Linked DNA regions of Homo sapiens. The protein of the gene in region 2 interacts with the protein of the main gene of each other region in a pairwise test. Each region holds a gene or a part of one and is shown on either strand. Other genes may lie near its edges.

The links.
Region 1: the proteins of CCDC6 (region 2) and SH3RF1 interact in a two-hybrid assay, tested with the Homo sapiens proteins (one large-scale study listed by BioGRID).
Region 3: the proteins of CCDC6 (region 2) and ZNF354C interact in a two-hybrid assay, tested with the Homo sapiens proteins (one large-scale study listed by BioGRID).
Region 4: the proteins of CCDC6 (region 2) and CCDC33 interact in a two-hybrid assay, tested with the Homo sapiens proteins (one large-scale study listed by BioGRID).
Region 5: the proteins of CCDC6 (region 2) and WAC interact in a two-hybrid assay, tested with the Homo sapiens proteins (one large-scale study listed by BioGRID).

Annotation. Positions count from the first base shown.
Region 1 is NC_000004.12:169,091,903-169,098,172, forward strand, and holds the end of SH3RF1 (E3 ubiquitin-protein ligase SH3RF1), read right to left. Parts: intron 4,786-6,270; coding exon 4,617-4,785; 3' UTR 2,357-4,616; downstream 1-2,356. UniProt on the Homo sapiens protein: Has E3 ubiquitin-protein ligase activity. In the absence of an external substrate, it can catalyze self-ubiquitination. Stimulates ubiquitination of potassium channel KCNJ1, enhancing it's dynamin-dependent and clathrin-independent endocytosis.
Region 2 is NC_000010.11:59,816,057-59,819,556, reverse strand, and holds part of CCDC6 (coiled-coil domain-containing protein 6), read left to right. Parts: intron 1-3,500.
Region 3 is NC_000005.10:179,068,833-179,075,503, reverse strand, and holds part of ZNF354C (zinc finger protein 354C), read right to left. Parts: intron 1-6,671. UniProt on the Homo sapiens protein: Transcriptional repressor that inhibits endothelial angiogenic sprouting. Suppresses osteogenic effects of RUNX2 and may be involved in osteoblastic differentiation.
Region 4 is NC_000015.10:74,328,535-74,334,863, forward strand, and holds part of CCDC33 (coiled-coil domain-containing protein 33), read left to right. Parts: intron 1-1,654; coding exon 1,655-1,820; intron 1,821-2,128; coding exon 2,129-2,217; intron 2,218-2,446; coding exon 2,447-2,578; intron 2,579-2,668; coding exon 2,669-2,762; intron 2,763-4,144; coding exon 4,145-4,311; intron 4,312-4,686; coding exon of another isoform or gene 4,687-4,788; intron 4,789-5,346; coding exon 5,347-5,433; intron 5,434-6,329.
Region 5 is NC_000010.11:28,611,327-28,617,997, reverse strand, and holds part of WAC (WW domain-containing adapter protein with coiled-coil), read right to left. Parts: exon of another isoform or gene 6,517-6,671; intron 6,225-6,516; coding exon 6,076-6,224; intron 3,432-6,075; coding exon 3,313-3,431; intron 1,826-3,312; coding exon 1,636-1,825; intron 342-1,635; coding exon 214-341; intron 1-213.

The DNA.
Region 1 (6,270 bases), on a different chromosome or scaffold from region 2:
GCTTTTTAACTAAGCACAAAGCCCAGATATCAGTTAATAAGAAAAAAGAAAATGAAAATATTCAGAGACAATTGGCAATTTCTTTTTTTTTTTTTTTTTTTTTGAGACGGAGTCTTGCTCTGTCTCCCAGGCTGGAGTGCAGTGGCGCGATCTCGGCTCACTGCAAGCTCCACCTCCCAGGTTCACACCATTCTCCTTCCTCAGCCTCCCGAGCAGCTGGGACTACAGGCACCTGCCACCACGCCCGGCTAATTTTTTGTATTTTTAGTAGAGACGGGGTTTCACCGTGTTAGCCAGGATGGTCTCGATCTCCTGACCTTGTGATCCACCCGCCTCGGCCTCCCAAAGTGCTGGGAATACAGGCTTGAGCCACCGCGCTCGGCCACGACAATTGGCAATTTCTGTCACAAATCCTTGGTTAGTGTTACTTTGGGTTTTTTTTCTTATTTGTAGAAGTTTTTTTTTATATGTAAAGGAAATTATCTCTTTGCCTGCTACAGGACTTACAAATGATTTATTTCATTGTTTATTCTTTTGACTTTGATTATGGTGTTTTGTCATGTAACTATTTTGATATTTTGTACAATTTATCAAGGTTTTCTTTTTTTTACAGTTTCTAAATTTTGAATCATATTTAGGAATGCCCTCTCATGCCAAAGTCTATCATGGCTTCTTCTAGTACTTTCACAAGGATTCAGAGCTTGAAAGATTCAACCCCAAGGTCAGAGACCTCTTGGAACCAAATTTCGTATCTAAGGTGTAGGCAATAGAAGTGGCAGCTGGCTCACTGGTTACTGGCTGGGATAATTCCATTATCTTTGGAGACTTATTAGAATAGTCTGACTCTATAATAGTATTGAATGGGACTCAAAGATTAATGCCACTCGCAGGTGCCTGCAGCATGGTTACAGAGCCTGGATGGCCATAGTACAGTAAGAATTTGCACTGAGTGAGATGCAGGTGGTGTTTCTGAAATGGAAAAGTAGCCAAATCAGAAATTTATTAGTAGGAAACACAAAAGGAATCCAAGGGATGTTCATCTGTAAACCTGAGAGAAGGTATTTTAAAACTGTCGCTGTTCACATTGGCAGGTGACTACTCACTCTAATAGCTCCTTCCTGCCTCTGGTGATACTAATGGACAGGGCAAAGTTCCCCAGCATACCCCATTACAGCCTGCAGCCACAGGGAGTTAGCGAGGGCTACACCCCTTTGCCTGGACATGACTAATCTCTTATAAATATCTTATTGATTTTGGTAGGCTGCTAATTATTTTTCCTGGAAAAAAAGTAATTTAAATAGGATGTGACATTGATAATGACATAGTTTGATTCAAAACACATTTTTAAAAATTTGATGAATACACACAAAGAGTTGTTAGTCAAACATCTATTAAACTTAGTCAAACATCTATTAAACTTAGTCAAACATCTATTAAACACAATTTCCAAAGCCGAATTCTAATGTTGTTTATAGCTCTGGATTGAAATATTCAGAGAATTGAATGTTCTTCTGGAGGTATGCAAATATGTTCTATTATAGGAACAGAAAGTTAAATGCATAGCAGTTGGAAACATCACCTTAATTTGTTCCTTCTAAAACCAATCAGACCCTGAAAAGCATTATATCATATACTCCAAGAGAGTGAGATGAATATTTGAAACCAGAGATAAACTTAATGCCACACATTAAAATAGCACTTTTCAAAAACAGTGAGATTATCTCCTTTGCTCCTCATCCTCACCCAGTGGGGTAGATGGGACACCAAAAGGAGGAAACTAAGTAATAATCAACTTGCCCAGGTGGCTACAGAGATAGTTTTTGGAAAAGCTACAATACAACCTAGAATTCCTGATTTTCAATTCTGATAAGTCATTTGACAGTAGCCAAAAGTTAATAAGAAAATAGTTTTTAACATGACTTACATGGGCCTTTCATTTCATGGGAAATTAAAACCATGGTGAATCTAAAGATTTTGTCCCCAAGCCATGCTGAGACTTACGGGTTATCATACTATTGGTTGATAGGTCTGCTTTTCCTTCTATGGCTAAGACAACTAGCACTCACCAGATTATTTTAGTAACTGGAAGAGGAAGAGGGGAACACAAGTGCCATACATGACCTCGTGCGACTCCACAAACTCTTTTTAAGCTTCTTGGAGAAATAAACAAGGTTTGTTAGTTGCAGAGGTAAAATGTGTCATAATCACCAAATTGATTCCTGTAGACATCTTCCGCTTGAGATGTATGCAAAGAATTTTTGTGAGGTACAAATTAGGTCAAATGTGTCCCGTGTTTTTTGTTTTGTTTTGTTTTTTTAAAAAGCAAAATTTTAAGGACTGACACAAGGGACATACAAAGGTTTGAACATCAAATTTTAATCTTGAAACCTTTTATCCAGTCCTCAAATTATTAACATGAAAAGGAGTGATAAATCGCAATTTTATCATTACCATATCACTGTGTAACAAGCCCTTGTTACAAAATCTCCCTCTACTGTCTGCAAAAAACCAATAGAAAACCCATACATTATATTACCTAATGATCTATTAACAGATGAAATTTTAACCAACTTTATACCAGGAAACTATGAACAGAGGTACTTCAATCACATAGCTTAAAATATGGAGAAAAGACAGGTAAAAAAATTATCTTAACCTGTAGTAGTCTTTTTTCTTTTTAAAATTTTTATAAAATACACTAATTTCCCAAAATAAAGAATATTATGACACATTGGTGTCAACTTACACAGATGAAAGCTGATGCCAGCTTTTTCCTAACTAAAGTTCATTTCACCAAACCTTTATATATTACATGAATATCCAAGTAAAGTATTTTTTTTTTAAATTCAACACACAGGAACATAATATACATTGTTTTTTTTTAAAAAAAAGGTTAATTTAGGAATGATTTCATCTTCAACCACATAAAGTATCTTTTTAAGACCATGAAACCTCTTGTCATTGCAAGACTTTTCAGTTCATGTTTCTATTTCCCAGTTTTAATTCTTAAAGGAAAAAAAAAAAGATGAAAGGGTTTATTATGTATTTCCCATGAGAAAACTGTGGTAAGGATCTTATTCATTACCAGGCTGTCTTCCCTCCTTTTGTTTTCCGGACTACCCAGATCCATGACTGCGTGGCACCGTAATGAAATCGGTGGGAGAGGCCAATGACATCAAGGAATGGATATAAAAAGACAGGCTCTTCTGGATCCTGCCACAATTGTAAGGTGTGGGCAAATTCACTCCCACCAAGCCTTCCAGAGCTCCACAGTCACAGGAGTAGTCTCCTGGTTAACTCATCCTTGATGTCTGTCTGCTGGGAGGACATAAAAGACCACTTTCACTAATGACTTGTGTAGTGGCTAATGCATGCCTTAGCCAGAGAGGGAGCGAGTGCACTGAAGAGACCTTGGTCAGTAGTGGCTTTGGGGTAGAGAAGAGAACACTGTTTATTTTTACACCTCCTGAATTGGTCAATTCTGAGTACAAACTCATCTTAACAGGAAATCGCAATGAAATATACACACCATGCACAGTCTATATTACTGTGGGAATCCAGTAATACATGCAAGACGTGGGGAAAGAATCACAATGGATGAATATGAACTTTTCACAGTGTTTCTTATAGCCTTTGACTTAACACGAGTGCATCACTTACCACCACTATCTCACAAATGTTTTACTTGTGTCCTGGGCATGCAGGTCAGTTGGGGTAAAATGTGAAATGACGCTTCATAGCCATTCTCAGACAGTGACTACAACTTCAATTTCCCCTACTTTCCAACCAAACAATTGAGCTGCTTCTGCTATAAAACTAAATATATTTCTAAATACATTTTGTTCAAGGGTTGTGCTGTATTCTTTCTCATTGTTTCAGTCACTTCATTCTAGGAAAATTAAAAACCCACACAATTAAATTGAGGACTAGGTCTTCAGGGTGATTCCTACCAAACTAGAAAGAGAGGGAATCACTAACTTCTCTTCTCTCAAGTTTCTGTCTCTCTACCCCAGGCCCTAATTGATACTGATTCATTTGTATGTTTGGTTTCCCAAAGAAGAAAACCAAATTAGAGAACTGGGATTTCTATCTTAAAGAAGCAAAACATAACCCCAAAATATAATGGTAGCAGGGAGGAGGAGAGGGGAAAATGCATTCACTCTATGTCAAAACGAATCTCTTGCTCTCAACAGGAGATAATCCAGCTTCTCCTTACCTATCATTTCATAAATTAATAATTTCTTAAAATCATAATCCAAAGAACGTATCTATTATACGAAAAGTTCAAGTTTAAAAAAGCAAATAAATTAGTTAAGCCTTGTAAACAATTGTCCATTTTAGTCATATATCTTAAAAAAAAAAAAAAGTTTCTCTGTGTAGTAAATCAGACAGTACAAGGCACACCTTATACATCCGAATCCAGACTAACAAAACCCACACAAACATCTTCTTCATTCTGCTCGCTGGGGTAACTGTGCTGGGGCATCAGAGTCACATACCAATCCTTTGCTCATCTCCTGACCATCTGGAAGTCCACAAATGTGCTCTTTCTGTTAAACTGCTTTGTGCTACTTTGTTGTGTGAAGTGATTTTAAGCTTCTTCAGTGTCAGTCTCCTCATATGTTTTCCACAAAGCTTCCTGGGAAAAGGCCAGTTTTCCCATTACGTTGTAATGTGCCTTTGAACCAGCCATCCTCTCGTTTTTTATGAACAAACACAATATCTCCTTCTTTAAGTTCAAGTTCTGCCTCACTCTGAGGAGGATAGGAAACCACCACCCTGTGCCTAGAAAAGAAAGAGATTTTGGTTAAGGCGATTCAAAGCAGTGATTTTAAAAAATGGTGTACTGTTAGTCTGCACGAACCTTCAACATAAATAGGAAATAACATTAATTCATTTATGATTGTAAAACAACTCAAAATACTGCTATTTTCTGTTTAGTAGAGACTTAGTACTAACAAAGACTGGATTTGGATATGTGTGTCAACCCACTACTGATGGCCCAGACTGGTTCATCTGAGTGACCTTAACAAGGACAGCCATCCTTGTTCCCTACCAGTGTTTGTATCTTGGCCATAAAGGAGAGTTTCATTTCATTTCCCGAGAGGGGTATCATTTCTATCCCTCCCTCTTCTCCAAGGAAACAGGAGTGAATTTATTTGATTGGTGAGACTGGGAGAAGTAGCTGAGCAGGGGGGGTTCAGTCCTCTCTGAACCGCCTGCCCACAGGCTAAGGAGGCTCTGCTCCACCTCTATGTTGTAAGCACACAGAGGTCAGGAAGGTGAGTCTGGAAGTCTGTCTCTGTGTCCCTACGTCCCTTACACTGGTGTTTGACATGGGCGAGGCAGCAATTCTGAGGAAGGTAATCTGCCCCACATACCCAGATTATCCCTTGGGAAGGTAGTCCCAAGGTCCAGACATGGAGGGGAGGGCTATGGCCACAAGTTCAATCCAACATTACCAGTAACGAGGTTGACATTCTCATCTCTATTATTCTGACATTTGGGTCTGTTTCTCCTTGGCTCAGAATTTGGAGTTAGTGGGAAAGGTGTCATTATCGCTTAAAAATGGCAGAAGCTTAGTTGGTTTAATATTATCTGTGCCCCTGCCTCCATGCTCCTTAGCCTTCCTGTGCAGAATTACAGCTTGTAGGAAACGAGAGGGAGGTGACTTGTTTTACACTCTATATCCTTTTATCTTTCTCTATTTTTCCAGCATTATTTGCATTACTCCTCTTCTCAACAAAAGGGGGGAAAAGAATGGTGGTGTATGGTAGCCAACCTCCAAGATGGCCCTAGTGATCCTTGCTTCCTGGTATTCACACTCTTGTGTAGTCTCCTCCTATGATGCACAGGATGACCTGTGTGGCCAATAAAATGTTGCAGAAATGACAGTGGGTGATTTCTGAGGCTAGATCATAAAAGGCATTATGGCTTCCACTTTACTTTCTCTTGGATCGGTCACTCAGGAAAACTGGCTGCCATGTTGTGAGGACACTCAACATCTCTATGGAGAGGAAACACATGGTAAGGCACTGAGGCCTCTTTCCAAAAGCCTAAACTAACCAGAAAAAGTGATGTGAATAAGCCATCTTAGAAGGGGATCCTCCAGCCCCAGTTGAGCATCAGCTCAGGCTGATGTCTTGACTACAATCTCAAGAAATACTCTAAGCCAGAACCAACCAGATGAGCTGTTCCATAATTATGTGACCCACAGAAAGTGTGAAATAATACATGCTTATTATTGTTTTAAGCCACTGACTTTTGGGC
Region 2 (3,500 bases):
GTTTTAATTGGCGGAACTGTTATGTTCACTTTGGCTCTAAGTATATAGGATTTGGAATTAGGTGGGCAGGAAGTGGTGGGGAAACTGATAAAGAACTTCAGGGGAAATTAACCAAGGGACTCAATATGATTTCCTCTAACTTCTCTGCTCTTTAATGTCAGCCAGAGCTCCTCAACAATGCTGAAAAGTTGAGATTTTTAAAACTGAAAAAACAAGAGGCCCTGCTCTTTTCAGGGTTAAAGATAATATAGAGTCCTGTAGCACTGCCAGCCTATGTAATGAAATACAGTAAGTCCTCACTTAACATTGTCAGTATAGTTCTTGGAAACTGACTTTAAGTGAAACAACATATATGAAAATCAATTTTACCAGAAGCTGATTGATATAAACAAGAGTTAAGTTCCTATGACATATTTCTGGTCACAAAAACATTATCACACTTCTAAATAAAGACCCAACATACTTCTGATATTAAATATTGAAACAAATATGAGTTATGCATATATTAAAGATTAATGAAAACCGTATAATTACCCCATTTTTAGTGAATCAGTGAGTGATGGTCATAGTAGTGATGTGTTAAATCAAGGGATAAATGTTTGCAAAGTAAAAATTGTAAGGAGCACCTCCTCCCAACTCACAGTTCAAAAGCAAATAGTAACAATTACAGCGGCTTGCTGAATACTTGCATACTGCATCATTGATTTTCATGTGTTTGTATGATTAGCATATACTTTATGAATTTGTATTTTACAATAATTTGTACTCATTCATTTTCTAACGTGCTTATTCCAGTTCAGATCAAGGGTGGCTGGAGCCTGTCCTGGCAGCTCAGGGCACAAAGCAGGACCCAATCCTGGATGGGGCACCAACTCATTGTAGGACACACTCATACACACACTCTTACTCACTCCAGAGGGACTATGTAGACATGCCGATTGCACATCTTTGGGACATGGAAGTAAACTCGAGTATCTGGAGAAAACCCACACAGACATAAGGAGAACATGTGAACCCTACATAGACAGAGGCCCCACTGAGAATCTGCTTCCCCCCCCCCCGTCAACATTATAATAAAAGGACGTTGAACATTCAAGGACCTACTGTACTTGAGAATCCACACGGCTGAGCTGGGGCTTCCTGTGTTGCCTGCATCATGGAAATAAATTAGTAGAGCAAATTGGGACAGCAAACCCAAGTTTCACACTCAGGGTGCCCACGTTTGCTGAGGTGGGCAGTAGATTGATAGCTGGTAACTCTACCAACAGATGCCAGGAAGGAGCCGAGATTCACGTAGAGCTCCAACCCATGTTTCCTGATCTCGTCTGTTTCCAAAATCGCTCATAGACTCCCTAAACTGTCCTTATTTCCCTGGCATCAGCTACCCCCAACTCTGCTACTCCCAAGTATTGTTGGCAAAGGAGATAGGCCCACAAACCACAGCTTGATTTGCCCTAAATCCATGTTTCCCTCAAGTTCCTCTGTACTTGCTGGTTGGACAGGACCCAGCAATTTTGGCTGCCATGGTGACCGATATCCGTTCCTATCTTGGTGGCATGACTGCCTGAGTCATGTCATCTTGCAGGCTAGTGGTTTCCTCAGCTTTAAAATGATGATTTGCCATGCTGCTTCTGGCTCTAAATGCGTGTGACGGAACTAGCCCCGACTGAAGACAGCTACTGTCTTGACATTGGGCAGGGAATGACAGAATGGATAGGCCAGAAAGGGACCACAGGCATCATCCAGGCCAAACTTCTCATTTCATAGATGAGGGCATCGGAGCTACAGCAGCTGAGTGACCTGCTCAGAGTCACATGCCTCATTAGTTACATATGGGTAAAGACAGCTTTGTCTTGATTTTGCTTCTCAGAGTTATTGATTAGTATTATGAGTATTTACTCTAAAAGTAATTGAGTATGCATTTCTCCACTAGACATCATACCGCAAAATGATGCCTGCTTGAATTTTTTTCTTGCTTATCAACTACCTCTACCTCCTATGATGCTTTTAAACACTGGAATTGGGATCCTTAAAGGTAAATGCCTCATAGTTATTTGTTTAAATAAACATAATTCTGAGGCTGGGGGCAGTGGCTCACACCTGTAATCTCAACACTTTGGGAGGCCTAGACAGAGGATTGCTTGAGGCCAGGAATTCAAGACCAGCCTGGGCAACGTAGCAAGAACTCATCTCTACAAAAAATAAAAAATTAACCAGGTGTGGTGGTGTGTGCCTGTAGTCCCAGCCACTTGGGAGGCTGAAGCAGGAGGAATGCCTGAGCCCAGTGGGTTAAGGCTACAGTGATCCATGATCGTGCCACTGCACTCCAGCCTGGGCAACAGAGCGAGACCTTGTCTCAAGAAAAGAAAAGAAATGACTGTGGATTGTACTTCAAAGCTTGGCCAAAGTGTATGATGAATGCAGAGAATCACAAGGTTTAATAGGAGTCATATAAGGGTCCCACAATTTCTCATTGTTGCTGCAGGTAGGAATTGTTTAACATTCTGAGGAGCATTTGCACGTTAGTGGGGTCCCAACTTTGCGGCACAATATATTTGACTTATTTTGACACCCTGCACCTCCTCCTTTTTGCCCTTGAACTGTTCTTCAGAATCAAATTCTGCCATGCAAAAACAACATATTTTGAAGCTCTGTTTCCAGTTTGCTACATAATCATGGCTTATTCACTTGTCAAATAAGCCCTCTAATATATATTGATGGCCTATAAGGTGCCAGATGTTATTCTAGATACTGAGGATGTACTAAGGAATGAAACAGACAAGACAAGTCCCTTGTAGGACTTACATTGTGGAGGGCTGGAACAGAAATAGAACGGATATCCAGATATAGTGATTATCATAGCCAAAAAGTGTTGAGTGCTTTCTAAGTGCCCATTAGTTATCAATGGTTTACCTAGATTTACAAATGTAATGCTCACTGTAATCCAATGAGCCAGACATTATTTTTGTCCCTTACTTTGCAAATGGTAAAATTATATCTAGTAATTTTCTCAACATTTTCTAACTAGTGATTGATGGAGCTGGGATTTGAACCTAGGCATTTGGCTCAAAGTCTATGATCATAAGACAGAAGTGTAATTACAGGAGTCTCCCCCCAATGCATTGGCTGCTGTTTTGTGACTGTACCTGTTTGTAGGAAATATTTTAAATATTCAAATGGCCAGTTGTTTCTACAGCTATTTTTATGGCTTTGAGAGGAGAAAAGAAAAGCCTAGAGCTGTGTCGTCACAGGAGAGTTTTTCCCATCTGTTTGAGACCTCCTTTTTTTCTCTAAACTTAGAACATAATGATATCATTATCCTTATATCATTTCCTCTCAGGTCTTGATTGTTCAGGTTCTGAGGCAGCTGATTTTATGCATATTCATTCTGGCTCAGATGTGGAACAAGTAGCTGCTCACCTTCATTGGCTGTCCTGTGCTCCTGTGTGAATATGGGCAAGTCTTTTGCTCTCTGTGAGCTCCTTAAGGACCTTGGGTGG
Region 3 (6,671 bases), on a different chromosome or scaffold from region 2:
TGTGTATGTATGTGTGTTCCTTTGCTTTGAATTTTCTTAAATTCCATTTTATTTTATTTTATTTTATTTATAATTTTTTTTTTGAGATGGAGTCTTGCTCTGTTGCCAGGCTGGAGTGCAGTGGTGCAATCTCAGCTCATTGCAACCTCTGCCTCCCAGGTTCAAGCAATTCTCCTGCCTCAGCCTCCTGAGTAGCTGGGACTACAGGCACATACCACCAGCTTATTTTTTTTTTTTCTTTTTCTGAGACAGAGTCTCACTCTGTCGCCCAGGCTAGAGTGCAGTGGCGCGATCTCAGCTCACTGCAAGCTCTGCCTCCCGGGTTCACACCATTCTCCTGCCTCAGCCTCCCGAGTAGCTGGGACTACAGGCGCCCACCACCACACCCGGCTAATTTTTTTGTATATTTGTAGAGACGGGGTTTCACCATGTTGGCCAGGATGGTCTGATCTCTTGACCTCATGATCCACCTCCTGCCTCAGCCTCCCAAAATGCTGGACTTACAGGTGTGAACCACTACACTTGGCCTATTTTAACTTATATGTTGACTTTGTAGTTAGACCTCTTTGTATTTTTAGTGGTTACTCGAATAATTATAATGTACATTTTTGGTTACTCATCACCTATTTAGAGCTAATATATCGTTTCACATAGAATGCAAGAATCTTGCAAGTATATAGGACATCACCACCCTTCTTTATGCTATAGTTTTACAAAGATTTTCCCAGTTCAGAGAGTTGACAGCACTTACCAAACTTCACTGAGCGTATTCATGTCAAGGTTTTTATTGAAAGGCAAAGGGTACAGCACAGCAAGAGAAAGAGAGTTCAGGGAAGCACTAGAAAGCCAAGAGACACTCCATGTGCTGTCTCCCTTATTTGCACAGACCACGCCATGACTCTGGGTCTGTGTGAAGAATCTTGGTGTGGGAGAGCTCAAAGGAGGAACTCTCAGCAGGGGCCTTTTTATGTAATCAAGCAAGTCCTGTCAAATCATTTAGGCCAGTTGCAAGCCATCAGTAAGGAAGCTTACCAGGAGTAGCCAGTGGCATTGAGATCTTAAAAATACACAAGCCAGGCCGGGTGTGGTGGCTCACGCCTGTAATCCCAGCCCCTTGGGAGGCAGAGGTGGGCGGATCACCTGAGGTCAGGAGTGCGAGAACTTCCTGGCCAACACAGTGAAACCCTGTCTCTACTAAAAAAAAAAAAAAAAGTACAAAAATTAGCCAGGCGCGGTGGCTCACACCTGTAATCTCAGCACTTTGGGAGGCTGACGCGGGCGGATCACGAGGTCAAGAGATGGAGACCATCCTGGCCAACATGGTGAAACCCCATCTCTACTAAAAATACAAAAATTAGCTGGGCATGGTGGCACGTGCCTGTAGTCCCAGCTACTCGGGAGGCTGAGGCAGGAGAATCACTTGAACCGGGAGGTAGAGGTTGCAGTGACCCAAGATCACACCACTGCACTCCAGCCTGGGAGACAGAGCGAGACTCTTTCTGAAAAAACAAACAAAACAACAACAACAAAAACTTACACAAGCTGATGGCTGGGTTCAGTGGCTCACACCTGTAACCCTAGCACTTTGGTAGGCCAAGGTGGGTGGACTGCCTGAGCTCAGCAGTTCAAGACCAGCCTGGGCAACATGGTGAAACCCCATCTCTACTAAAAATACAAAAAATTAGCCAGGCTTGGTTGCATGCACCTGTTGTCCCAGCTACTCAGGAGGCTGAGACATGAGAATTGTTTGAACCCAGGGAAGCTGCAGTGAGCCAAGATCACACCACTTCACTCCAGCCCTCTGTCTCAAAAAACAGAAACAAAAACAAAACAAAAAACAAAAAACAACAACAACAAAAAACCATGCTGCCTTTATCTTGTTTTGGCCAAGAGTCAAAAAAATAGACCACCAAGAATTCCCAGAGATAAAAATAGAGCTTTTCTAGAGAAAAAGATAGAGCTTTTCCAGTCCAGATGTAAATAAATTCTATCTTCATGGTGGTTATTTGTATTATAGCTGCCTACATTGTAAACCCCCTCCTATAATACAATAGTATTATTTTGCTTTAAGCAATCAGCTGCACTTTAAAGAAATCGAAAGGAAAAAAAGTATTTTATATTTATCCAGATAGCTACCATTTCTAATGCTCTTCATTCTTCCTAAAATCAGAGTTCCCCTCTGGTATATTTTTCTTTTAACTTACATAACTTCCTTTTTAGTGTATCTTATAGTACAGGCCTGCTGGCAATGAATTAGCTTAATTTTATTTTACCTGAAAATGGCTTTATTTCATCTTGATTCTTGAAGAGTATTTTCATTGGATATAGAATTCTGGGTTGATTTTTTTTGTCTCTCTCTTTCAGCATGTAAAATGTCATTCTATTGCTTCCTGGTCTTTGTTGTTTCTGATGAGAAGCCAGCGGTCATTCAAATATTGATTCTCTGTATGTAGTACAATTTTTTTCAGCCTCCTTTCAAATCTTTGTTTTTTGTGATTTCTCTATGACTTTCCCCAATATGGTAGAAACCAGCTAGCTATATGTGGCTACTAAGTACATGAAATGTGGCTCTTCTGAATTGCGATATGTTATCTGTATAAAATACATACCAGATTATTTACTTAAAAACATACATACACACACATACAACATATACATACATACATACACAAACATATATGCAAGTTATCTCAATAATTTTATATTGATTTCATGTGGAAATAATATTTGGATCTACTGGGTCAAAGAAAATATATTATTAAAGTTAATTTATTTGCTTCTGTTTACTTTTTTAATGTAGCTGGTGGAAAATTTTATATTAGGTATGTGGCTTGCATTCTTGGTTCACACTATATTTCTATTGCATGTCACTGATCAATGATGTGTGTAGCTGTGACTTCCTTTGTATTTATCCTGCTTGAGATTCATCAAATGTTATAAATCAGTAAATTTATGTTTTTTACCAAATTTGATAAATTTTAGGCCATTATTTCCTTTTAATATAGTTTGTCCATTCTTTGTCCCCTCTCCTTCTAGAACTCTAATTTCATGTATATTAGACCTTTTAATATCATTTAATTGGTAACTGAGGGCCTTTTTTCTCCCTGTTTTTCAGATAGGATAATTTCTGTCAATCTACCTTCAACTGTCACTGACTTCTCCTTATGTTCATTTCCAAAAGTTAAGCCTATTCAGTAATTTTTTTTTTTTACAATTTCAGGTATCTTATTTTTCAGTTCTAAAACTTCATAGTCTAGAATTACTTTTTTCACAATCTCTATTTCTCTGCTTGCATTTCCTATTAGTTCATTCTTTACATGTATATTTTCCTTTAAGTCCTTGAGCACAGTTATAGTAGTTGCTTTAAAATCTTTGTGAATTCTAATATCTGGGTCATCTGGGTCATTGTCTCTATTGATTGTCTTCCTCTTGAGTTTTGGTTACACTTCCCCATTTCTTCATATGCCTACCTTATCCTGGAAATTGTACAGTACACAATGTGTAGAAACTCTGGATTTTGTTATGTTCCTTTGAAGAGTACTGACTTTTTTAAGCAGGTAGTTAATTTAGTTGGAGTCAAATTCCGAACTCTGCCACCTCTCTAGTGGGCAGCATCAAATATCTTTGTTCAGTTCTTATTTGGGCTACTTTGAGTCTGTCCTGTGCATGTATGGTTCAGGGGTCAGCTAGAGATTTGGGCAGAGTTTGTGCACAGAATCTGGGGCTTCCCTTCTCTGCCTCTCTCCTTTCCAAGATTCCTCCTCTCACTTTCCAACTGCTAAGTTTGCCTCAAACTCTATCTTGTGGTTATTCACACCAGTAAGACTGCAAGTTTGTGACTAAGTTTTGATTATTCTGTTGGTGCTGACTGTGGCCTACTCCCAGGCAAAAAGCTGTAAAAAACAGAAAATTTATCTGGTGACAATTCCTTCTTCCAAATATACACAGGTGTCTAATATCTGTCTGCTTTTGATTTCTCTCCAGTACCTTAAGGTTTCTTATATTTTATCCAGAGTGTAGTAGTTATCCACAGATGAATTAGTCTGAAAGGAGCTATTTCTCTATTACCAGAAGCTGGAAGCACATGTATCTTTTTGAAAGTATATTTTAAAAAGTAAAAAAAAAAAAAAAAAAAATGAGCCTGGCAAAGTCATTAAATATTAAGAAATGATAAAATGACCGACTACTAGAACTCCAGACCTGAAACACATCTTATCAATCATCTCATCCAGTTGTTCTCGTTAGCGTGTGGTATCTCCTCCCACCTCCCTAGAGTGAGTAGCAATGTGTGAGGGTGTTTCATTTTTCACAGTGACTAAGGGAGTCCTGCCGGCATTTAAAAAAAGAGATCAGGGTCAGGCACAGTGGCTCACGCCTGTAATCCCAGCACTTTGGGAGGCTGAGGCAGGCAGATCACGAGGTCAGGAGATCAAGACCATCCTGGGTAACACAGTGAAATGCCGTCTCTACTAAAAATACAAAAAAAAATTAGCCAGGCTTGGTGGCAGGCGCCTGTAGTCCCAGCTACTCAGGAGGCTGAGGCAGGAGAATGGCGTGAACCTGAGAGGCGGAGCTTGCAGTGAGCCGAGATCGCACCACTACACTCCAGCTTGGGCAACAGAGCAAGACTCTGTCTCAAAAAAAAAAAAAAAAAAAAAAAAAGAGCGATCAAGGCTGCTAATCATCTGGAAATGGATGAGAGAGTGCTGCATAAGGAAAGACAACTCCACTCAAAATGCTTATAATGTTCTCACTTAGAAACACTTGTTGTCTAAGCTGTATTTTTAAAATGCAAGATGAGAATCTGGGTTGTGGCAGGTGGCTTTATAAGAAGATTATAAGAAATGTGAAGTTTGTTTTAGGTTTCCAGCAATAGAAACTGACTTTGGCTCATTTACACAAGAGACCAGGTAGCTCCAGGGAAACTGATAGTCACAGAAGTAGGCTTGGAAAATAAAACAGAAACTAGGGCAGCAACATTCCGGACCACAGCCAGGATCACACTAGGAAACCAGACTTGTGAGAATACTGTTGTCATGGAAAAGTAGATGGTACAGCCTCACCAGCACAAGACAGCTACTGCTTTTGCTGTGCCACTCCTCCTTCCCCTACAAACTCAATGTTACTGATGTTGCCACAAATTACCAGACTGTACTCGATATCAGAGGCCCCCAAGCCTTTTGGCACCAGGGACAGGTTTCGTGGAAGACAGTTCTTCCACAGACAGGAGGGTTGGGGGAATGGTCTCAGGATAAAACTGTTCCATCTCAGATCACAGGCATTAGATTCTCATAAGGAGCACACAACCTGGGCCCCTCACGTGCGCAGTTCACAATAGGGTTCATGTTCCTATGAAATCTAATGCCGCTGCCGATCTGACAGGCGGCAGAGCTCAGGTGGTAATGCTCGCTCACCTGCTGTTCACTTCCTGCTGTACCGCCTGGTTCCTAATAGACCAGGAGCTGGTACCGGTCTGCAAAACTGGGGGTTGGAGACCTTTGTTCTCTTCCTGTTTCCTCGTAGCTCTAGCTCCTGACTGAAAGTCTGAAGTAGGTCAAGCTTGGGTCACAAGCCTGTACCTTATCTATAATTAAAGCTAGAAAAGTAAATATCTGGTTTTTTTTGTTTGTTTGTTTTTGAGACAGAGTCTTGCTCTGTCGCCCAGGCTGGAGTGCAGGGGCGCAATCTCGGCTCACTGCAAGCTCCGCCTCCCGGGTTCACACCATTCTCCTGCCTCAGCCTCCCGAGTAGCTGGGACTACAGGCGCCCGCCACCGCGCCCGGCTAATTTTTTGTATTTTTTAGTAGAGACGGGGTTTCGCCATGTTAGCCAGGATGGTCTCGATCTCCTGATCTCGTGAGCCACCCGCCTCGGCCTCCCAAAGTGCTGGGATTACAGGCGTGAGCCACCGTGCCCGGCCTTTCTTTTTTTTTTTTTTTTTTGAGATGGAGTCTTGCTCTGTCGCCCAGGCTGGAGTGCAGTGGCCAGTCTGGGCTCACTGCAACCTCTGCCTCCCAGGTTCAAGTGATTCTCCTGCCTCAGCCTCCTGAGTAGCTGGGATTATAGGCACGTGCCACAATGCCCTGCTACTTTCTGTATTTTTGGTAAACATATTCTGCCTGGCAGTTGGTTGAAAGAATTATCATCAGTAGAAAGGAATGTCTGGGTCATGATAACGGGTTGTGGAGACCTAGGTTTTGTCAGGCAGATGAAACCTCCAAGTAGCAGGCTTTAGAGAGAATAGACTGTAAATGTTTCTTATCAGATTTAAGGTTTGTGTAGATATTAATGCTGGAGGGTACAATGAGGCTTGTCCAACCCCTACTTCCTGTCACGGCCTGAACCAGTCTTTCAGGTTAAATTTCAAGGGCCAAGGAGGAAGTCCATTCAGACAGCTGCAGGGGGCCTTCTAATTTTATTTTTGGCTTCCACCCCTATGCCTCAGAATGTAATAATATTTGGAAACAAGATCTTTAAAGAGGTAATTAAGTTAAAATGAGGCCTTTAGGCTGGATCCTAATCTAATACCGGCATGTGCTTCTAAGAAGGGGAGATCAGGACACGGACACGCTCATGCGCAGGAGAGGCCATGTGGCAGGAGGCAGCGAGAAGGCAGCCATCAAGCAGCCAAGGAGGCCTCAGGAGAAGCCAGACTTGCCCACACCTTGATC
Region 4 (6,329 bases), on a different chromosome or scaffold from region 2:
CATTAACAATGCTGTCCGAGGACACCAGATGGGCAGATCTGGAGGAGCCAAGACCTGGAACTCAACAGGGGCAAGTGCTGGAGAGATGAACCTGGCACTGGTGCAATTAGAGGGAGCCCAACCAGAAGGCTAGACAGTGGCAGGTGACAAGTGGTGTCTGGTGGGCCCCTGCTGCCAGGAGACCCCTGCTCTCGAAGCCATGGCCTGCCATGCAGCAGGTGGGAGGCAGTGGCTGAGAAGGCAGGCCATATCCGCAGTCAGCATGAGGCCCAGGTGGTTGCTGGGGGCCGAGCTCTGCTTCCTGGAGGTGTGAGTCCCCACCCGTATGTACACAGCCTCCCACAGCTTCAGGAAGCCCACAGCCACAGGGGCTCAGCAAACGCAGGAGCAAACTCACTTCCCCATGCCCATTTCCTCCCCCATCCCAGCTCCCACCTGCTGTTCCTCCATCCAGACCTCTCTGGCTTCACATCGAGGTTGCAGTGAGCTATGATGGTGCCACTGCACGATCCTTTTCTATTTTGTGCTGTTCAGATTTAAGAAACTCCCTTTGTGAAACTTTATAAATAACAGTAGGGAATTTCTGCTTATAAAACAAATGCATATAAATATAGCCTATTAATTTTCATATATATATATATATACATGCACATGGGCAGGCATGATTTTTTCTCTCGATTGGGGATTGCACTGATCATTCCTTTTTGTAGCCTGCTTTTATCACTTCTCAGCGTATTGTGAAGTGTCCACATATGGAGGCCTCATGGCAGAATTGCACGGCTCTTCAGAACAGAGGCTCAAGTCCCTGCAGGCCTGGATTTCAGACCCTGGCTCTATCACTAATCAGTCTTGTAACTGAGCAAGTTACTCACCTCTCTGGGCCTTGGTTTCCGCATTGGTATAACGGAGATAATAGTACCTATCCACGCAGGTCTGATGAGAGGACTGAGGGAGGGCACATAAAAAGCTTAGAAGAAGACCTGGAACACAGTGAATGCTCAATGAGCATCAGACATTAGGATTGCTGTTGTTCCTGACCTCATGGCTGACTCCAGCCCCCAGCCCCACCTCATACCCCACATCCTGTAGCTGGATCCCAGCCTCCACTAAGCTCTAACCTGGGTCTCCCAGGGTGACCTTGGGTCCTCTGACTACTGAGCTGTTTGGAGGGCTGATGCCCAGTCACCTTCCAAGTGGCATCCAGTGGGATTTCTGAGAGGTTCTTCCCTGGGTTCTCAGTGACGTGAGGAATGAGAGGAGTTAGAAGATGGGGAAGGAGGAGGGAAAAGGTGAAGAAATAGCTATGATCGAGCCAGACCCTGCAAACCTGGCCCTGGATCTTCTCAAGTCTCCATTGCCCATAGGCCTCCTCCCCTGTGTCCACACCTGGGGTTTCCCCCTGAGTTGGTATCACAGGACGTGATGTGGCCCCGGGGAGAGAACATTAGTGTGGCTGCCCTCACATGGCCAGGATGGGTGAGGATCAAGTCATAACCACCCTTCCAGGGAGCTGCTAAGACTTAGGGCCATGGCTTGGGGCTCCTGGTGCTCACTGGCCTTGTGGGGGACCCACTGACTTTCAAGTGTAGATGTGGATGTGGGACCAGGGTTGCTATGGGGCAGTGGGCTCAGCTCTGGGCTCTGGGATCCACAGGAGATGAACAACTACCGGCGGGCCATGCAGAAGATGGCAGAGGACATCCTGTCTCTGCGGAGACAGGCCAGCATCCTGGAAGGAGAGAACCGCATACTGAGGAGCCGCCTGGCCCAGCAGGAGGAGGAAGAGGGGCAGGGCAAAGCCAGTGAGGCCCAGAACACGGGTGAGGATGTGCAGGCCACCAAGGGCACCCGGGCTTCTGCCTGGGCCCAGGCTCCAGGTTGTGCAATAGGGTGGCTGGGAGCTTCTCCCAGATGTGCATGCTGCTGGACTCTGGCAAATAGGAGCCCCTCGCCCACAGACACTCACACAGTCCCTGCCCAGCTGGGTCCTCTCAGGGATGGGAAACAGAGAATCCAGTCCCGTCCCAAGCCCTCGGGCCAAGGGATATCTGCCTTCCTGCTACTGACCATGCTGATTTGAGCTGGGAGAGGCTTCCTCCCTGAGCCAGCTCCCCAACCCACCTAACAGTGTCCATGAAGCAGAAACTGCTGCTGAGTGAGCTGGATATGAAGAAACTGAGGGACAGGGTGCAGCATTTGCAGAATGAGCTGATTCGAGTGAGCTGGGGCTTGTGGGGGCAGAGGGGAGGGAGCTATGGTGGGGGAGCATCGGGGTGAGAAGAGTCTGGGAGGAGAAGGGAGAACAGGCACAGAGGGAATGGAAGCACGGAAGAAAGGGGGACCAGCCTGGTGGAGGATTCAGCAGAGGGGCCGAGGTGGACCCTCAGGGCCAAGGTGGACTCCCAGGCACCCATTCTCTCCCCTTCTCTCCTCCCCCATCTCACAGAAGAATGATCGAGAGAAGGAGCTGCTCCTTCTGTATCAGGCCCAGCAGCCACAGGCCGCTCTGCTGAAGCAGTACCAGGGCAAGCTGCAGAAGATGAAGGCGCTGGAGGAGACTGTGCGGCACCAAGAGAAGGCAGGTGGCAGAGGGGCTGCCCCCGAGGCCAACTGATGATGGCAGAGTAGGGAGCCCCTGGGCCAGCCCAGCCTCTGCTCTGCTCTCCAGGTGATCGAGAAGATGGAGCGGGTGCTGGAGGACAGGCTGCAGGACAGGAGCAAGCCCCCTCCTCTGAACAGGCAGCAGGGAAAGCCCTACACGGGTGGGTCCACACCCTGATGTGATCAGCTCCCCAGCTTCTGCTCCACCCCTGGAGGCCCTGCCTTCCTGGAGCCTCTCAGCTTCAGGAGAACCTGCGAAGAGGTCCCCTGCACTCAGTTATGTCTGTGGGCCTGGGAGACCCAGGATTGCCCTGCTCCCCTCCTCATTCAGGCGCCCCATCCAGAGATCCCCTGAGCTCCCTCCTTCCCTGGAAGCCCCTCAGAACACAATTGGGATGCAGTGTGAGCCAGGCTAGAAAGAGGGTGGACCTCCAGAGGAGGGCCCTGCAGACTAGCACAGCAGAGAGGGCCTTCCCCTGAAGAAGGGCCACCTGGGGCAACACTTCCCAGCTCCTAGCCCCAGGATCCGTCGAATTATTTCCCCATACCGCCAAAGATTCTGCCTCTGCAAAGCAAACAAACAAAAATACTTTGATTAAATCAATGATCTGGGGCCAGGCGCAATGGTTCATGCCTGTAATCCCAGCACTTTGGGAGGCCGAGGAGGGCAGATCACTTGAGGTCAGGAGTTCAAGACCAGCCTGGCCAACATGGTGAAACCCCATCTCTACTAAAAATACAAAAATTAGCTGGGCATGGTGGCGGGCACCTATAATCCCAGCTACTTGGGAGGCTGAGGCAGGAGAATCACTTGAGCCCAGGAGGCAGAGGTTGCTGTGAGCCAAGATTGTGCCACTGTACTCCGGCCTGGGTGACAGAGGGAGACTCCGCCTCAAAATAAATAAATAAATAAATGATTTGGAGGTTTTCTTCCCCATCGATATTAACCAAAAGCCACCTAAAACTGCCAATCAGCCTCTGATAAGCAGAAAGGACCAGGTAACACCATATCAGGCCAGCCCAAAGCAAGGGATTTCCCTGAGCCTGCCTGTGCAACCTCACCCAGGGCCCCTGTGTGCCCAGCCCTGTGCTTAGCCTTCACCGCTGAGGGTCTCAGGGGCAGGAGGGTGTTTCTAGGAGCCTTTAGAATGCAATGAAAGCTGGGCTGGCCTTTCAGGAAGCCTGAGGTCATCCAGGAGTCTGGATGAGACTGAGAAGGCAACCTAGGGAGGGGAAACAGCCAGATCAAAGGCCCAGGGAGTGAGAAGAATTCCAGGATCAGAGAAGGGAGGAAGAGAGAGAGGTGAGGAGCTGAAATACACTGAAGACAAATGAGGAGTTAGAGAGAACGTTGAGGTCAGGTTCTAAAGAGCCTAGAAGGACAGCCTGTGTGCACCTGATCCCACTGGTGGTAGGGAGCCATTGAAGGCTTGGGAGTAGAGGGGAGGGGTGGCAGATTGAAGCAAAATGCTGGAGCAGATCAGGACAGGGACATGGGAAGCAGGAGAGCCCATCTCACCAACATCTGTGGCCGTGTCTCTAGGCTTCCCTATGCTCTCAGCCTCTGGCCTTCCCTTGGGTTCTATGGGAGAGAACCTGCCGGTTGAACTTTACTCGGTGCTGCTGGCAGAAAACGCGAAGCTGCGGACGGAGCTGGATAAGAACCGCCACCAGCAGGCCCCCATCATTCTGCAGCAACAGGCCCTGCCGGTAAGAGGCCCTTGACCTGGGCCTGCCTATGCCGGTCACTGGGTGCCCAGAAATCACCCATGGTACAACCCAAGTTGAAGATCAAGACCAGGAGCTAAGCTTCCCAGGGTCTCCAGTCTGCCTGGGGGCTCCTGGAATCAGCTCTCAGGCCTTGGTCTTTTTCTCCTGCGGAATGTGTGTCCCCGAACACTTCACCTTTAACCTCATCTAGCATCCCAGGAGAAAGCAAGCCCCTTGTTGACCCTTGGTCCCTGAACCCTGACCCCTTTTTCACCTGGCTGGCCTCCACCTGGACCCTACACAGGCCTCTCAAAACTCCCTTCTGGAGCATTCCCTGGTCTTGGTGCAGCCTTGGAGAGCCCTTTTCCATCCCAGGTGGACCCCGGGGAGTTGGGAGCAGGAGGAGACTTGACAGAGAGGCTACAAGAGACGCATGGCCCAGGCCACTCAGAGTGCACAGAGACCCTGCCCGCACAGGTGGGTGGCCCAGGGCCCAGAAATGCCCAGGCCCTGCTCCACCTCTGAAGATGCTTCAGGGGCCCCTTGCTTTACATAAACCCCAAAGCAGAACATTTGGAATCACAGAATATTGGGCAGGGCAGGGGCACAGGAGAGTTTTCTCTCCATCCCAGGACTCGCCGGAGGTGAGTTCTGTTGAAAGCACACCTGACTCATGGACATCCAGGTAAAGTGTGAGGGATGAGGTCAACTGCCTCACAGGTTCTTCACTTCACTCAAAGACTCCCAGTGCGTTAATTATAGGGGGCTCCCTAATGCATTTTACATTAAAAAAAATGTTGTGTCAAAACTTCGTATTCTCAAAATCTGTGTGGGAAACAGCTGTGAAAAAAGCACATGCCAGACCCTGTTCTGAACTTCCAGAAGAGGGTTCGGCCCAGGTCTGACGCTCTGCCTCGGGAGCTCAGTCTGAACTCAGGCCTGACTGGTTTCTTCCTCAATACCTTATGGTTTCCCAAGCTCACACTGCCACAGCCTCCAGCTGGGGCCAAATGTGAGTTTGTGCTTTGCCCACAGGATCTCCTCTCTGGTACTTCAGACAAGTTCAACCTCCTGGCCAAGCTGGAACACGCTCAGAGCCGGATCCTGTCCCTGGAAAGCCAGGTGGGTGAGATGCAGGAGTTGATGAGGCTGGATCAGGCTCACCACACAGCCTATAACCAGGGCTCAGTGTGTGAGCAGAGTCTAGGCTCAATCTATGACCAGGATCAAGGCTTAGTGTGTGGCCAGGGTCGGGGTTCAGTGTGCAACCAGGGTCAGGGCTCAGTGTACAACCAGGGTTAGGGTTCAGTGTGTAACCAGGGTCAGGGTTCAGTGTACAACCAGGGTTAGAGTTCAGTGTGTTACCAGGGTTAGGGTTCAATGTGCAACCAGGGTCAGGGTTCAGTGTACAACCAGGGTTAGGGTTCAGTGTGTGACCAGGGTCAGGGTTCAGTGTACAATCAGGGTCAGGGCTCAGTGTACAACCAGGGTTAGGGTTCAGTGTGTGACCAGGGTCAGGGTTCAGTGTACATCCAGGGTCAGGGTTCAGTGTGTGACCAGGGTTAGGGTTCAGTGTGTGACCAGGGTCAGGGTTCAGTGTACAACCAGGGTCAGGGTTCAGTGTGCGACCAGGGTTAGGGTTCAGTATACAACCAGGGTCAGGGTTCAGTGTGCAGCCAGGGTTAGGATTCAGTGTGTGACCAGAGTCAGCGTTCAGTGTGCAACCAGGGTCAGGGTTCCGTGTACAACGAGGTTAGGGTTCTGTGTATGACCAGGGTTAGGGTTCTGTGTATGACCAGGGTTAGGGTTCAGTGTATATCCAGGGTCAGGGTTCATTGTGTGACCAGGGTCAGGCTCTGTCTATGACCAGAATCAGGGATCAGTGTGGACTCAGGATCAGAGCTCAGTATGTTGTTGAAATGTCCATCTGTGTCTTGGTCAGGCTGCCTGACTGTTTGGCCCCCTCACCCTCACCCCGCCACCCCTGAGGTCTCGGGAAGGTGTCAAGCCCACATGGC
Region 5 (6,671 bases), about 31 Mb from region 2:
GTCTAATGAAGCATTCATCATGGGTTAAGAGAAAATCGACAGGCTTTATCCTTCACGAGAAATATTAACTTATGAAAATGCAGTGATAGAATGTGATCAATGTATCGAAGAGAACTTTACATTTCATAAATAAAATGTGATTTACATTCTTTAGTTCGATTTAAGAATCATAATCCTGAGAAACATAAAAATATATTTCAGTGAAAGACTTACCTTTGCTCTCGCAAAGTTGCTTGAATTTCACATACTCGGACTAAAGATCTTAAATTTTTTAATTCAGTACAAATTTCGGACATGTGAATAGTTCCCATGTTATGCGCTTCTTCGCGTAATCTTGATGCCTGTAATTAAAGAAATGAAGAAAACATAAAATATAAACATTAACATACACAAAATAAAACATTAAATTTCTGAGTACAATTTTATACTAGGATTAGAGAATAATCCTTTTCCCTTCAATACACAAAAATGCTGGTGAACCTAATGGGGAAAATTAATTTGTTTTAAGAAACTGTCTCTAAGGGTGGAAGGTACTTATTTTAATATTTCTCTTCTAAGTTGGAGAAAATAGGATTTCCAACCTGAAGCTAATACAGCACTAAGAAAGGACTCATAATTTGTGGTTAATAAAAGATGCTGGGTCAGCCAAAGAGATTGTCATTTCTGCAAGTTCAGGTATTAGATATTGATTCAAGAGCCTCACTATACTCCTCTATCGTAAGACACACAACATATTCTCTGTAAACTTTCGAACACCCCAGATGGTCAGTTATCTGATAAAAAGCAAGAGGCAAATGGCAGTAACTGGAATGTCCTAAGGTCTCTCATCCCAAAGCAAAAATGTTTCCTAACTTCCAGTTGCTAGTCTAGTGAGAGAGTCATAGAAAATTAAGTGGGGTTTTTTTTTGTTTTTTTGAGACAGAGTCTCACTGTGTCACCCAGGCTGGAGTACAGTGGTGCAATCTCGGCTCACTGCAACTTCTGCCTCCTGGGTTCACGTAATTCTGGTGCCTCAGGCTCCCGAGTAGCTGTAATTACAGGTGCATGCCACCATGCCTGGCTAATTTTTATACTTGTGGTTAGAGATGGGGTTTCACCATGTTGGTCAGACTGGTCTCGAACTCCTGGCTGGCCTCAAGTGATCCACCTGCCTTGGCCTCCCAAAGTGTTGGGATTACAGGTATGAGCCACTGCGCTTGGCCAGTAGATTAACAGTGCTAATGGAATCTGAAACTATCAGAGAAGCTGAGTGGAAAAAGTACACTGGCTTTGAGCCACATCACTGTTAACTGGGTGACCCTGGGATCAAGGTCTTATGCACTATTTGGTCTTAAGGACTTCAACTCTATCTACACTGCTTAGCTGTTTTAAGAAGTAGAGAAAATAAATATAAGGCATTAAGCACTGAGCTAACTGCTGAGTACTTGACAACAGTGCCTATAATTATGTTAAAATATTTTGTAAAACCAGAAAAGTTATCTTATATATCAAATATTTTTTAAATGACTACAAAGTTAGAGATTCATTATTTTAAATATTGCTTGAATTCAGTGGTCACATTAGATTCTCTAGAAGTTGATTAAATTCTGTTTTGCTAATCATCCAAAGGTAAAATCTAGGCTGTACATAACATACCTGCTTCTCTGCATGATCTGCAGGCCATCCTTGAACGTGTTTTATGAGATTTTCACTGAAGTGTGCTGCTAGTGCAGGCGTTAATGAACACGTGGATCGGGCAGAAGAATTCTGTGGTACAACTGTTGCATTTGATGCATTACTACTATTAGAAGTATGATTGGGACCAGGTGATGGACTTCTCTGGCTACTAGAAAACAGAATTGAATGTGTAGTATGTTTAAAAGTAGTTTCTGGGTATCCTTATCCTAGAAACTGCATGTTAATACCTTTTATTAACTTAAAGATATCCAAATTCCTAAGAAAAATTTGTTATTTTAATGTCAAATAAAGAGAATTAATAATCCAAAGTATATGATTCCTCAAAACACTTTAGGGGGAAAAAACCCTTTTAACACTACTGTCAGAGTCAAATGTAAACTACTCTCCAAATCTGAGAGCAGAACCTGTTAACTTTGTGTACCACAAACACTAATAATATAACTAAAAAAAGTCACATTTTAACAGCTGTAGATGCACATCTGAAGACTGCTCATACACATCTAGATAAGGGGAAAATATATATTGCCTTTGTTCAACGTCAGAACTGCTGAATCAGAGGGTGAAATAATGTGAAGCAAAATACAGACATTTTATTGGATAGCACTGAACAAGCACAGTGGCAAAACAAAACCAAAAAAATAACACTCTGAGATTCTTTATCTTCTTTTAAAACTGAATGGTTTGGGCCAGGGTTGGGGATATGGTGGTGAGAACCAAAAAATTTAATCACCCAAGTTGATCTCCTACCTGCTTCACCAGACTTGGCTCTGAATGAATTTCAGTTATTTCCAAAAACTAAATCTCCCAAAGGATGAAGAGTTTTCATCACTGAGGATATTTAAAATAATACTGCAGCCTCTAAAAACAATTTAAAAGAAGAATTTCCCAAAAATGTTCAGAGCAATGGCAACATTGCTGGAGTAAGTAGACAGCTTCCCAAGGTCATTATTTTGAAGGGAACAACTCTCATTTGGAGGTGTAAGTTCTGAAATGCTTGTTTAGAAAACAACAATAAAAACAACAGTTGAATTATTTTGCTACCTCATAGCATGAAATAAAAAACAGGAAAATCAATCAAATGAAAACCATTCATTCAACAAATGTCATTTAAAGTTGTGTTGTTAATGAACAAAGAAAAGTGCTAACACAATACAGCAGTATAGAACTATCTAAAAAGCCATCCGTATAGGGTCACAGTTAAGCTATTGGGAAAGCCTGACATATACCAGTTGGGAAACATTGGCCCAAGTTTTAGATACCAGACTTTGGCTTTCATCAATATACTCAAACCAAAACTGCTATGAGGAGGTTAAAAAGTAAGGTAATTCCAACAAATATTGTAAAATCGTGTGCCTTTCTGGTACAAGTATCACAAATCTTTAGCCCCGTCATATTCCACTGTGTAAAATTTTAAAGAGCCACTTTCTTCAAAATAACCCGGGCTTCACTACTAGAGACAATAACCTACCTCTTGTATACAGGTTTGTCTTTGTAAATTTTACAACATGTAAGCCTACTTTAGGGTATTCATGGAGTTTAAAGGTTAAGTTCTATTTTACAGATATAATATTCAAACAATGCAGTGTACCATCATTAAATAAAACAATGTGGTCTCAATATACAATATCAACCTACCTTGAGCGCTGAAGACTTCGAGGAGAGACAGGTTCATGACCTTGCTGCTTGTCAGCAGTTACAGGCTGCTGTGTGGCTGACTGTGACACTGGTCCTTGCTTAACTACTGGAGTACTAACCTGAAATGTCAAAATCTGGTGAGATGGTCTCCAAATCTAATCCACATCTCTCCCCCCAAAATCTAGGTAATCGTCTTGAAACATGTAAAATGTGGCAGTCAAGTTCTGAAACTTAGATCTCATTTCTTTGTGAAAATGGCCCAAGGTCATAAAATTACTTCCCTATCAAACTAGGGCTGGGCGCGGTGGCTCACGCCTGTAATCCCAGCACTTTGGGAGGCCGAGGCGGGCGGATCACGAGGTCAGGAGATCGAGACCACGGTGAAACCCCGTCTCTACTAAAAATACAAAAAATTAGCCGGGCGCAGTGGCGGGCGCCTGTAGTCCCAGCTACTCGGGAGGCTGAGGCAGGAGAATGGCGTGAACCCGGAAGGCGGAGCTTGCAGTGAGCGGAGATCGCGCCACAGCACTCCCGCCTGGGCGACAGAACGAGACTCCGTCTCAAAAAAAAAAAAAGTAACTAGTTCTCCTTTACAGCTCAGTTTTCTTTCCAATACATTATTATCTCTTCTGATTTACTGTTACTTTTATATCAATAAAAGTAAATTATGTATGCTACCACATCATACACATATGGATGCTTAGATTTTAATGATATGGAGAAATATGTGATTGGGCTATCAGAAAATGAGTTATGGCCCATATAAAGTTCAACATGAGAGTTTTTCAAAGAGATGTTACTCTACAGAGGTAGACTGAAGTCCATGATTGCCAATCAGGATATGTATTATATTCAGAAGCCACATAGAGAAAAGCAGTTTAAAATATAAGCTCTAAATTGAGGCACAAAGGCAGATGGAGTCCTTTGTGATTAAGTCACACCTCACTGCTGTTTTTCTTTTGGTGGGGTGAGGGGATATGATTAATAATTCTCCCTAACAAATCTGGAATGTCCTGCTTAACTTCTGAATATTACCTATCAATTCTAGTCAAGTCTTATAAAGAACATTTTATAAGCACTACATAAAAGCTCAAATGTTCAATTATTTTAAAAACAACTTGAAGAAGTTTTTGGAACACAAAAAACGAACAGCTACCTGCTTAAAGGATTTTTTTTTTCCAGACAGGGTCTTAGTCTGGTTGCCTACTCTCAAGTGCAGAGTGACGTGATCTTGGCTCACTCCAACCTTGAATTCCCAGGCGCAGGTGATTCTCCTACCTCAGCCTCCTGAGTAGTGCACATCACCATGCCCAAGAAAGTTTTTCAGAGTTTCACTCTCTTGCCCAGGCTGGAGTGCAGTGCCGTGATCTTGGCTCAACTGCACCTCCACTTCCCAGGTCAAGTGATTCTCATGCCTCAGCCGCCCGAGTAGCTGGGATTATAGGTCTGTGCCAGCACACCCAGATAATTTTTGTACTTTTAGTAGAGACCGGGTTTTGCCTGTTGGCCAGGCTTGTTTCAAACTCTAGGCCTCAAGTGATCTGCCTGCCTCGGCCTCCCCCAGCAAATTTTCAAATTATTTTTGTAGAGATGGGGTCTTGCTATATTGCCCAGGGCCTAATTCAATCCTCCTGCCTTGGCCTCCTAAGTGCTGTAATTATAGCTGTGAGCCACCGCGCCCAGCCTTCTTAAAGGAGTTGAAATGCTCAGTTTACAAGTGACTATAAAACCAATACTACCACTTATTTCACTTTTAACCACTATTTACTATACTCTTAAAATGCCACCCTGAAGACAAGTTCTAAGCTCCAAAAATAACATCTCTTTTGCCAAAACTCACATTTTAATTCTTTCCTCCTTAAAATACTGGCAAATGATAAGGAACTGCATAATAAACTAACAACTGTAACTTGGAATTTTAAAAATCAATCTAAATTGACCCTAAAACATGCAATGATCAATGGCCAAGGTAGGGAAGGGATGAACAAACGGGAAGACTTAAAAGCTGACCAACCACCTCTTTCAAGTTATATTTCAATGCATTTTTATTTTTGGGCTTCTGCTTAATATCTTACAAAGAATTATTTGGCATTAAAAAGTCTGAAACAGCCCACTGTTTCAAAACTACTCAAAAGAAATTCCCCCTACATTTACCATTTAGACCAGCAATTTTCTAACTGCACCTATGGAGCCAACCATGTAAGATTCTGCTGGGACAAATACAGGCAATATAAGCTTAGTAAAATGGGTCCCTGTATTCACAAACACCTAGGTTTCAAATTCTGACTCTACCACAAAAACTTAACTGAGAGTTTGATTTTCTCATCTATTAAATAAAGCAAGTGATTCTCACGATGTGAAAGCTAAACATACATTAAGTTCTTAGCACAGAAACTGCCTCATTTTTGAAATACAAATATGGAAAAGTCACTGGAAAACATGTTCATTCATGTCTTTTGGAGTTTGAAAATTCTACAAATATTAAGACTCAGTATATCCTCTTTATCTCACTCTCCATGTGACAAATCCCAAAACCATTAGGGAACAGACTCAGATGGTTTATTAAAGTAGCACAGATTCAAAGCCCCCCTCTATCCCTCAGTGAACTGAGAAATTCTAGGCTGCATCTACTATCATACCTGTCATTCATTCCACCACTACACCTCATTCTCAGAGGGCTTTTTCTATAACAGATTCTAAAATGTTATTGACTTTCCAAAAGTAAGTAGTTTCTTTTCCGAATGTCCCTCAAAGGTGACATACCTTTGGCTGTGATGAAACAGGAGGAGTACTGATCAAAGGTTTGATAGGGACTGTGTTAGTTTGAGGTGTGCTTATTCTTGGAGAAACATATGATCTTGGGGATGACGCATCAGATGTTAAAGACATCGGAGACTGATTAGATGGCTGGGCTGTAAAAGAGGGAAGCAATTAATTTTAAAGAAAAACAAAACAAAACAAAAAACTAAAGTCCTTTGTAATATATGTGGCAAAGATATTTGTATTACTCTAAACCCCCCCACCCCCATATTACCCAGAGAACACTTATTGGAATAAATCAGAATCTGACCTTCTCACTGGGCCACACTGACTAAGTGAGCTGTGTGTTCAGAGGTAAGCACACCCAGTGTGGCCCACTCTCCTTTATGTGGCTGGAACAGGAAGCTAGGCCTGAACCTAATCTCACATGGAAGGCCTCCTCACCATCCTTATTTCTTCTTTCTTATTCTACATTTAGGCCCAGGTATCCCACGCAGTCTCCTGCTCATGAGGCTAGCCAGAGGGTTGCAAGAGTCTTTGCACCATTATACTTCCATTCCAGACAAGGCATTCCTGCTGTTTATCAGCTTTCTGACAAA